Linked DNA regions of Homo sapiens. The protein of the gene in region 1 interacts with the protein of each later gene in a pairwise test. Each region holds a gene or a part of one and is shown on either strand. Other genes may lie near its edges.

Region 1 (3,500 bases):
CCTCTAGAGTGTGGCCTAGCACCAAGGCGGCCCCAGCATTCACTGGTGTATACCCTGGGCCTCAGTTTCCTCACCTGTGGAATGGGCTGCTAGTAGAGGTGAGATGAGGCTGTTGTGAAGAACGGGCCCAGCTCGTAGAAGGCACTCATGGATGCCGTTGCCCGTCCTGTCTCCCAGCATACTCCAGGCATCGCTTCTTTGCATCCCCACCTTGCTGTGCCTGACACACTCGTGGAATTCTTGTTGGTTGGTGGGCAGTGTGGGTGCTGCAGTTTCGTGGCTAGGCTGGCATGGTGCTGCTTTTCTGGCCCTTGGGGACTCCCAGACCTGTGCCAGGTAGATGGCTGGGGAGAGGGGCACTGGAGTGGGGTGGCTGGGGAGAGGGGCACTGGAGTGGGGTGGCTGGAGCTCAGAGTCTGGCTGTTCCCAGCTGCCCACCTGCTGGGACTGGCCTGATGCTTGCAGCCTAGTGACCTCCCAAGGGCTTGAGCTGTCTCTGTCACTATTGCCCACTGGCTAAGGGGCAGTTCTGTCGAGGGCAGGATGCAGGACCTCTTCCTCCTCTCCTGACCATCAGCTGGAAGCATCAGAGGCCTCACTGGAGACTCTGAGGCAAAATGATCCAAGCTGCGGGCTGGTGTGAGGACTTGGATTACCCCCCAGCAGACTTGGGGACCTGTGTCTGGGACCTCAGTGCCAGGCCCAGGACAAGGGGCACACTCATGAAACCTGTATCCAGCCCAAAGCCACAGCAGAGCAGTCAGCCTCCAGGAGGCCCCTGAGGCAGACAGCCTCCTGCTGGGTGGCTGGGCGGGCCTCCCAGTGTGTAAGGGGATGTCAGGGGCCCTGCCACCCTGTTCTTCTGGGGCTTCTAGGCAGGGGCAAGACCAAGGCAAAGGCGTCCAGAGCTGGCCTCACTCAGGCTCCCAGGTGAAGCTGTTAGAAGTGTTGTCCTCTGGGATTTGGTTGGACTTTGATCAGTTTTCCTCAGAAAAAGAGCCATGAATTGCTTTGCTTTGCTCTGTCAAGCCTCCAGCAGAACGCCTCCCTCTGCACAGGCCCAGGCCAGAGACCTGTGTGGAAGCAGGCATGGCAGGCAAATCATGTCACCTCACTGGGCAGTTATAGGTGCCTGCCTGCTTCTCAGAGCTGTGAGCTCAAAGGAAAGGCCAGATGTCAGAATCTGAGAAGCTGGCCACATGAGAGCAGGGAGCACCCTGGCCTGTGTTGGTCTGAACTTTGGTCTCAGAAAATTGTTAAACTCCTCCAGACACACAGACGGCCCGAGTCAGTGACAAGGGATTTCAGTAACATCTTAGCTACCCCTTTGCTATACAGTGGGGAAACTGAGGCCCAGAGAGGAGCAGCACACACCTTCAATTGCTGGGCAGCTCCAGAGCCCTTAAGGAGCCATTTTCTTTGTCATTTAGGGACCCTCAGCTCCTCTGCCATGCAGAAGTAGCTGCAGTTCTGGTACAAACCTGCATTTCCTGCCAAGAAAGCCAACTCAGGTGGGCGGTACCAGGAGGCTAAGGCTGAGTCAGGGAGCAGTCAAGCAGTCATATTTATAACAAGGCCACCACAGGAATCCCACTGCTCCAGGCCGGAAGGGATCCTGGGGGCAACTCCTCCCACCCCCAGCCCGCCTCCCTGTGCTTGAGTCCTCTAATGTGATTTCAACCTCCCCCGCCATCCCCCAATAGCCTAACCCTACTCTGTCAGGTTGAGACTTGGACTAGTGGGTTCAAATTCTGGCGGGGTGCCCTCCTCTGTAGAACGAGGAGAAGGTGGCGTCCTTGCAGAGTGATCGTGAGGACCAAGTGAGTCCTGTGTGCTGTGAAGAGTAAGAAGTACAGTGCTCCACGCCGGGTCCGTGATGGTTGCTCCACAGTCAGCCCCTCCTTTGGGGGCGTGCAGGCAGTTGTCTGTCTCTCCTGCTAGCATGAAGAGGCAGGGGCAGGGTGTGCATGGTTCATGTCTGCGTCCGCAGCATCTAGCACACAACAGGTGCTCTCTGGCTTGCACTCTGTGGCTCATAACCTTTGTTTTCTCCTTTGTGTGAGCTTGTGTGTGTGAAAGAGATGTCCCGTTGTGCGCCATATTTCCTGAGGACAACCTGGCACACGGTGCCCACATGACTGCTGAATGCTGGAAACCTTACCCAGCTCCCACTGTGCAGACAGCAGTGCCCACCTCCGCTCCTCGGTGCCTCCCACCTCCCCACCCAGAATAACGCGGCGGTCCCTGTGCTTGTCCCGCAGACGCCAGCATGTCTCCGGACGCCACCAAGCCGAGCCACTGGTGCAGCGTGGCGTACTGGGAGCACCGGACGCGCGTGGGCCGCCTCTATGCGGTGTACGACCAGGCCGTCAGCATCTTCTACGACCTACCTCAGGGCAGCGGCTTCTGCCTGGGCCAGCTCAACCTGGAGCAGCGCAGCGAGTCGGTGCGGCGAACGCGCAGCAAGATCGGCTTCGGCATCCTGCTCAGCAAGGAGCCCGACGGCGTGTGGGCCTACAACCGCGGCGAGCACCCCATCTTCGTCAACTCCCCGACGCTGGACGCGCCCGGCGGCCGCGCCCTGGTCGTGCGCAAGGTGCCCCCCGGCTACTCCATCAAGGTGTTCGACTTCGAGCGCTCGGGCCTGCAGCACGCGCCCGAGCCCGACGCCGCCGACGGCCCCTACGACCCCAACAGCGTCCGCATCAGCTTCGCCAAGGGCTGGGGGCCCTGCTACTCCCGGCAGTTCATCACCTCCTGCCCCTGCTGGCTGGAGATCCTCCTCAACAACCCCAGATAGTGGCGGCCCCGGCGGGAGGGGCGGGTGGGAGGCCGCGGCCACCGCCACCTGCCGGCCTCGAGAGGGGCCGATGCCCAGAGACACAGCCCCCACGGACAAAACCCCCCAGATATCATCTACCTAGATTTAATATAAAGTTTTATATATTATATGGAAATATATATTATACTTGTAATTATGGAGTCATTTTTACAATGTAATTATTTATGTATGGTGCAATGTGTGTATATGGACAAAACAAGAAAGACGCACTTTGGCTTATAATTCTTTCAATACAGATATATTTTCTTTCTCTTCCTCCTTCCTCTTCCTTACTTTTTATATATATATATAAAGAAAATGATACAGCAGAGCTAGGTGGAAAAGCCTGGGTTTGGTGTATGGTTTTTGAGATATTAATGCCCAGACAAAAAGCTAATACCAGTCACTCGATAATAAAGTATTCGCATTATAGTTTTTTTTAAACTGTCTTCTTTTTACAAAGAGGGGCAGGTAGGGCTTCAGCGGATTTCTGACCCATCATGTACCTTGAAACTTGACCTCAGTTTTCAAGTTTTACTTTTATTGGATAAAGACAGAACAAATTGAAAAGGGAGGAAAGTCACATTTACTCTTAAGTAAACCAGAGAAAGTTCTGTTGTTCCTTCCTGCCCATGGCTATGGGGTGTCCAGTGGATAGGGATGGCGGTGGGGAAAAGAA
Region 2 (2,962 bases), about 33 Mb from region 1:
AGGCGGGTGGATCACGAAGTCAGGAGATCGAGACCATCCCGCCTAACACAGTGAAACCCCGTCTCTACTAAAAATACAAAAAAATAGCTGGGCGTGGTGGTGGGAGCCTGTGATCCCAGCTACTCGGGAGGCTGAGGCAGGAGAATGGCCTGAACCCGGGAGGCGGAGCTTGTAGAGAGCTGAGATCGCACCACTGCACTCCAGCCTGGGTGACAAAGCGAGATTCTGTCTCAAAAAAAAAAAAAAAAAAAACTATAAACAATGGATGGACAAGAAAATCATGCTGGTGTGCGAAGCTAATGTGTTTCCCTCTCTTCCAGATGCTGGCCAAGAAGAGCTGAAATAGAAAACAGCCTAGAACCTAACACTATTTACTGTAAAATTTTTGCACCAGGATGGAAGGGGATTCTTACCACAATGCAACCACCGTCAATGGCACCCCAGTAAATCACCAGCCTTTGGAACGCCACAGGTTGTGGGAAGTCATCACCATTGCAGCTGTGACTGCTGTGGTAAGCCTGATCACCATTGTGGGCAATGTCTTGGTCATGATCTCCTTCAAAGTCAACAGCCAGCTCAAGACAGTTAACAACTATTACCTGCTCAGCTTAGCCTGTGCAGATCTCATCATTGGAATCTTCTCCATGAACCTCTACACCACCTACATCCTCATGGGACGCTGGGCTCTCGGGAGTCTGGCTTGTGACCTTTGGCTTGCACTGGACTACGTGGCCAGCAACGCTTCTGTCATGAACCTTCTGGTGATCAGTTTTGACCGTTACTTTTCCATCACAAGACCCTTGACATATCGGGCCAAGCGTACTCCGAAAAGGGCTGGCATCATGATTGGCTTGGCCTGGCTGATCTCCTTCATCCTCTGGGCCCCAGCAATCCTCTGCTGGCAGTACTTGGTTGGGAAGCGGACAGTTCCACTGGATGAGTGCCAGATCCAGTTTCTCTCTGAGCCCACCATCACTTTTGGCACTGCCATTGCTGCCTTCTACATCCCTGTTTCTGTCATGACCATCCTCTACTGTCGAATCTACCGGGAAACAGAGAAGCGAACCAAGGACCTGGCTGACCTCCAGGGTTCTGACTCTGTGACCAAAGCTGAGAAGAGAAAGCCAGCTCATAGGGCTCTGTTCAGATCCTGCTTGCGCTGTCCTCGACCCACCCTGGCCCAGCGGGAAAGGAACCAGGCCTCCTGGTCATCCTCCCGCAGGAGCACCTCCACCACTGGGAAGCCATCCCAAGCCACTGGCCCAAGCGCCAATTGGGCCAAAGCTGAGCAGCTCACCACCTGTAGCAGCTACCCTTCCTCAGAGGATGAGGACAAGCCCGCCACTGACCCTGTCCTCCAAGTGGTCTACAAGAGTCAGGGTAAGGAAAGCCCAGGGGAAGAATTCAGTGCTGAAGAGACTGAGGAAACTTTTGTGAAAGCTGAAACTGAAAAAAGTGACTATGACACCCCAAACTACCTTCTGTCTCCAGCAGCTGCTCATAGACCCAAGAGTCAGAAATGTGTGGCCTATAAGTTCCGATTGGTGGTAAAAGCTGACGGGAACCAGGAGACCAACAATGGCTGTCACAAGGTGAAAATCATGCCCTGCCCCTTCCCAGTGGCCAAGGAACCTTCAACGAAAGGCCTCAATCCCAACCCCAGCCATCAAATGACCAAACGAAAGAGAGTGGTCCTAGTCAAAGAGAGGAAAGCAGCCCAGACACTGAGTGCCATTCTCCTGGCCTTCATCATCACATGGACCCCGTATAACATCATGGTCCTGGTTTCTACCTTCTGTGACAAGTGTGTCCCAGTCACCCTGTGGCACTTGGGCTATTGGTTGTGCTATGTCAATAGCACTGTCAACCCCATCTGCTATGCCCTCTGCAACAGAACCTTCAGGAAGACCTTTAAGATGCTGCTTCTCTGCCGATGGAAAAAGAAAAAAGTGGAAGAGAAGTTGTACTGGCAGGGGAACAGCAAGCTACCCTGAAAAGTCAACAACTCCTCTCGAAAGAACAATGACCACAGTCAACATCCTCTGAGGATGAGCAAGCTGATTCTGGTTTGTATATTTTCAAAAAGAAGACATCTCATTTTGAGTCCTTGAAGATTTTTGTAAAGGCTCAAGTTTGGTTGCCAAATGGAAGGGGCCATAGCTGCAGCAATTGCTGACATATTAAATGACTCTTGCCTATGACCAAGGCCATTTGATGCCAGGGGAGTTTGCCAATGAAGTAAAGGGATAGGCTCATGGCCCTTCACAAGAGGAAGCACACTGGGTAACAATGAACAGTGACTCAGGGAACTTATGCCCCTTCTGTAGGAAACAGCAGAGACCAGGTGGAAACCTTTTCCTGTGGAAACCTGTCATAGAATTTTGTGCAATATGTATGTGTCTATGAAGCTGTCTTGTGCCAGTGAGAACCAGCAGGAGAATGTACAACAGTGTCACTTGTTAACGAGACTGATATTCAACAGGCTTCTAAGAATATGTATCTTCATAAACTGATCACTATCTATTATGCAGCTATTATGTGGTCTATACTATACTGTGGTTTGTTTTCCTGTCCCCACATCTGAGTGAAGGTCTTGCTCTTCCCTTTCATATCCAATGTCAATTCCTTGTACTCACTGAACCCATGCTGATCTCCAGGGAACCATCCTTCCTCTCAGAATCCAGAGTCTGGAAGGACTGAAACCTGGTCATACCCAGTCCTTTCAAGGGGCCTCTTTTCTACTAATAAAGATGGATCAAGTCTCCACAGTCAGTTATTTTAGTTTTTGCCAGTGGAAATTTTTTCTTTTATCTAAACAGATATTGTGCATTCTATTTTGTGCCCATTTGAACCCATTTATTTATGCTCTGTTCTTAGGAAGACTAATTGTGTAAGAGCCCTTCACTGGCTGAAGATTTTCTCCAGGCTGTTGAATTAAGGTTCTTATATTGTTTTCAGAGAT
Region 3 (3,731 bases), on another chromosome or scaffold:
CCTAAGAAAGAATATTATATTAAAAATGGTCATACCTTTTGCTGATTATTTTGACTGCAAAAGCTTGGTTACTTTTTTTATGCACACACTTTCGACAAATTGAAAAACTACCTTCTCCCAGGGGTTTGTCCTTCAAATCTAGGTCATAGTGTTGATAGAATGGAGAGTCCTGTCAAGAAATCAACATCATTTAACTTCAGAAAATGTCAGTAATACACAAAGGATCAATAAAATTGTAGAGTAAAATAAAATTATTAATATTAATAAACAGGAATAGAATACATTTATAATCTAAAATTCATCTTTATAGGTAACTTCTATTTTCATCTAAATAATTATTTAAGATACATAATTCTCTATAATTGTAAAAAGAAGTTCATTCAACTTGACGTTAATTCTCTAGGGAAAATATTGCTATATCCCACTTTTAAAATTGCACTTTAGTTGAATTACTAGACTTAAGAACATTAATTAGAGTTGGTATTTAAACACTCACAAAACCTACAAATATGTCATATAAGTTACCACATCTATATACCTTCATCATTGCACTCCTGGCAACATTTGTCACTCCAGGACGTTCAACTCCCATGTGAAACTGAAGAGGGTCTATGACAGCTGCATTACGCTTGAATAGGATGGAAGGAGCAACAAAGGAATAGCCCTAAAAACAAGACAAAGAAAGATAAAGAAAAACAACTTGCAGTTTTCCAGTTTAACACAGATTAGATTGTAATGACTTTTTTTCCTTAGAAAAACACTCAAATATTTGTTGAGATGAGTCTAATTTTATTTTATTTGCAATCTAAAATGCAAGGTTATTTCAAATCATTTGAAAAATGCTGTTCAGAAGGATATAATGCCATCTTCTGGTAGAACTAAACCAATTCAAAAATAAAGGTAGAAAAAGACTTCTTCCCTATTCCACCCCCAAAATCAGACTCATAGATGAAATTCTCCTGGTTTGCTGATGAAATTTGTTTACAAACATAACTAACTTCTCAAAAAAGGATACAGTCAAGGTATTAAACAAAGTGGTCTTTTTTTTTTGAGATTGAGTCTGGCTCTGTTGCCCAGGCTGGAGTGCAGTGGTGCGATCTTGGCTCACTGCAACTTCTGCCTCCTGCGTTCAAGCCATTCTCCTGCCTCAGCCTCCCAAGTAGCTGGGATTATAGGCACATGCCACCATGCCTGACGGGGTTTCACCATGTCTCGAACTGGTCTCAAACCCCTGACCTCAAGTGATCAACCCACCTCGGCCTCCAAAAGTGCTGGGATTAAAGGCCTGAGCCACCAGACCCAGCCACAAAGTGGTCTTTAAATGCTATTGTTTTTCAAACTGGAAAAATGGCAAGTCTCACTAAAGTTAGTTTCTAATTTAGCAATTATTTGATTCTTATTAATATCTTCAGAATAATTAAATTTAAAATTGAGTTTTGGAAAGGAACAAAGTCTAATGGCAGAATGATGCTCTGAGCTAAGTGGTACAAAGACGGATGATTAATCCGTTCAAGCTAGAACATTCACTAATCAACAAACATTTAAAAAAATGTTCAATAAGTGCCCAGTCACATACTAGACAGTGATAAGCAAAGAAGAAAAGACACCGTCTGGATGGCCAGATTAAGCCATACTAAAGGTATACTTATAGAAGTCAAAGAAGCAAAGCTCTGATGCCATTTAATAGTTAGAATATTTTATCTTGTGTGACAAATGCCCTTTTCTAAATATAAAATCTAAATCTTTTTTTAACAGCAGTTAAGATTAATTACTGAAGGTAAAGAATAAGGTAACATTGTGAACTAAAGAATGTTTTTATATGGGGGTTGAGGGGCACGGTGGCTCATGCCTAGAATCCCAGCACTTTGGGAGGCCAAGGCAGGAGGATCGCTTGAGGCCAGAGTTCAAGACCAGCTTAGGCAACAAAGTAAGACCCTGTTTCTACAATTTTTTTTTAATTAGGTGGGTGTGGTGGCATGCACCTGTGGTCCCAGCTATTCAGGAGGCTGAGGCAAGAGGATCCCCTGAGCCAAGCAGTTAAAAAGGCTGCAGTGAGCTATGATCATGCCACTGCACTCCAGCCTGGGTGACAGAGTGAGACCTTGTTTCTTAAAAAAAAAAAATTTTTTTGGCTGGACGTGGTGGCTCATGCCTGTAATGCCAGCACTTTGGGAGGCCAAGGCAGGAGGATCACTTGAGGCCAGGAGTTCAAGACCAGCTTAGGCAACATAGCAAGATCCTATCTCTGCAAAAAATAGAAAAATTAGCTGGGTGTGCTGGTTTGCACCTGTGGTCTCAGCTATCCCAGAGGCTAAGGTGAGAGGATCACTTGAGCCCAGGAGTCTGAGGCTGCAGTGAGCTAGGACAGCACTGCTACACTCCAGTCTGGGCATCAGAGTGAGACCCTGTCTATATAAATAAAAATTTTTAAATATGAATAGAGGTAAAATAAAAGATTATTGTATTTTCTATAAAAGAATCTGAACAAAAATAAAATTTCAGGTATAAAATTAAAACTTCCCTTATATCAAAAATAAATGCATAAACAATATCTGCTATTGAGCAAACTATAAGCTTCGGTTAACAATGTGCAATATTTCTGCATTTAATAATTTAGAGGATATTAGAGAATCCCATTTTTATGATGCCAACAAAACTACTTCAATATGGGAAATTTAATCTTTTCTTTCAAAGGACATATGGCCAATGTGCATGTGCACAGGATGGGAAATTACCTGAAACAGCTTCTCAGAACTCTGGGGCAGGGCTGCGGGAGAATAAGTGGGATCCATTTCTGTGAACTCTTCTGCAAAGTTACTCACATCTAATTCATCTCGAATGACTGGCTTAAATGGTGCAGGCACTTTTTTGGCGGCTAAATCATCCCAATTTATTTTCTAAAACAAAGAAAGTTGGTACAAAGTAGAAATCAATAGTCAAAATGTACTTTCTAAGAATAACAAAGATAAATTAGGATTTTGACTGGTAGGGAGAGAGGATAAAAATAAGAGAACATATTTCAAATCAATAATAAAAAACATATTTTCTCCAAACAAGATCACAGCAGTTTATAGCTCCAACCAATGCTGTGCCTCAAAGATGAGACTATCGCTGTTGAATCTCAGAGTGTCCTCTGGGGGGCACCAAGACACCCTAGTTTACCTTTAAAGACAACAGAAGAATACTTTTGTCCTGAGCCTCCTCAGAAAGGTGTTAAGCCAAAAAGAAAACAAAAAACCCAAAACAAAATAAAAAACTGAAATAAAGGGTTTCCAAAGGCTCTACAGATGTGGATATTAGCTCTAAAAGAATGTTCCTATTTTCTAGAGGCAGTGTTACTTAGCTCTCTGCCTGCACTTGCTTTTCCTCCTGGGCATCCAGACAGACTGGAAAATAAATCCACTGTAAATCAGGCATGTGCTTATGTCTAGAAGTTCAAATGATACCATCATATGGATGTGATCACTCTTTTCTTATTCAACTGTGTTCAAGCATTTTAAACACTGCCTCTTATGTCCCCCATAGAATAATGCAAGCCCCTTTTCCCTCTAGGTCACTTACTGAGTTATATTACTGAAATCCAACCCTTTGCTCTGTTTCTTTGTGCTCCTTCTATCATTTAAAACAATCTCAGATAACACTTACTGAATTAAATCCTACAGGTCTCCTACTACCACATTTTTTCAAATCTAAGATGCCATTACTGATAGTAAGATACACAATTATTTTAT

What was found.
Region 2: the proteins of SMAD6 (region 1) and CHRM5 interact in a two-hybrid assay, tested with the Homo sapiens proteins (one large-scale study listed by BioGRID and IntAct).
Region 3: the proteins of SMAD6 (region 1) and RPS6KA5 interact in a two-hybrid assay, tested with the Homo sapiens proteins (one large-scale study listed by BioGRID and IntAct).

Annotation. Positions count from the first base shown.
Region 1 is NC_000015.10:66,778,736-66,782,235, forward strand, and holds part of SMAD6 (mothers against decapentaplegic homolog 6), read left to right. Parts: intron 1-2,261; coding exon 2,262-2,800; 3' UTR 2,801-3,500. UniProt on the Homo sapiens protein: Transforming growth factor-beta superfamily receptors signaling occurs through the Smad family of intracellular mediators. SMAD6 is an inhibitory Smad (i-Smad) that negatively regulates signaling downstream of type I transforming growth factor-beta.
Region 2 is NC_000015.10:34,062,323-34,065,284, forward strand, and holds part of CHRM5 (muscarinic acetylcholine receptor M5), read left to right. Parts: intron 1-320; 5' UTR 321-395; coding exon 396-1,994; 3' UTR 1,995-2,962. UniProt on the Homo sapiens protein: The muscarinic acetylcholine receptor mediates various cellular responses, including inhibition of adenylate cyclase, breakdown of phosphoinositides and modulation of potassium channels through the action of G proteins.
Region 3 is NC_000014.9:90,900,073-90,903,803, forward strand, and holds part of RPS6KA5 (ribosomal protein S6 kinase alpha-5), read right to left. Parts: intron 2,898-3,731; coding exon 2,736-2,897; intron 665-2,735; coding exon 539-664; intron 170-538; coding exon 36-169; intron 1-35. UniProt on the Homo sapiens protein: Serine/threonine-protein kinase that is required for the mitogen or stress-induced phosphorylation of the transcription factors CREB1 and ATF1 and for the regulation of the transcription factors RELA, STAT3 and ETV1/ER81, and that contributes to gene activation by histone phosphorylation and functions in the regulation of inflammatory genes.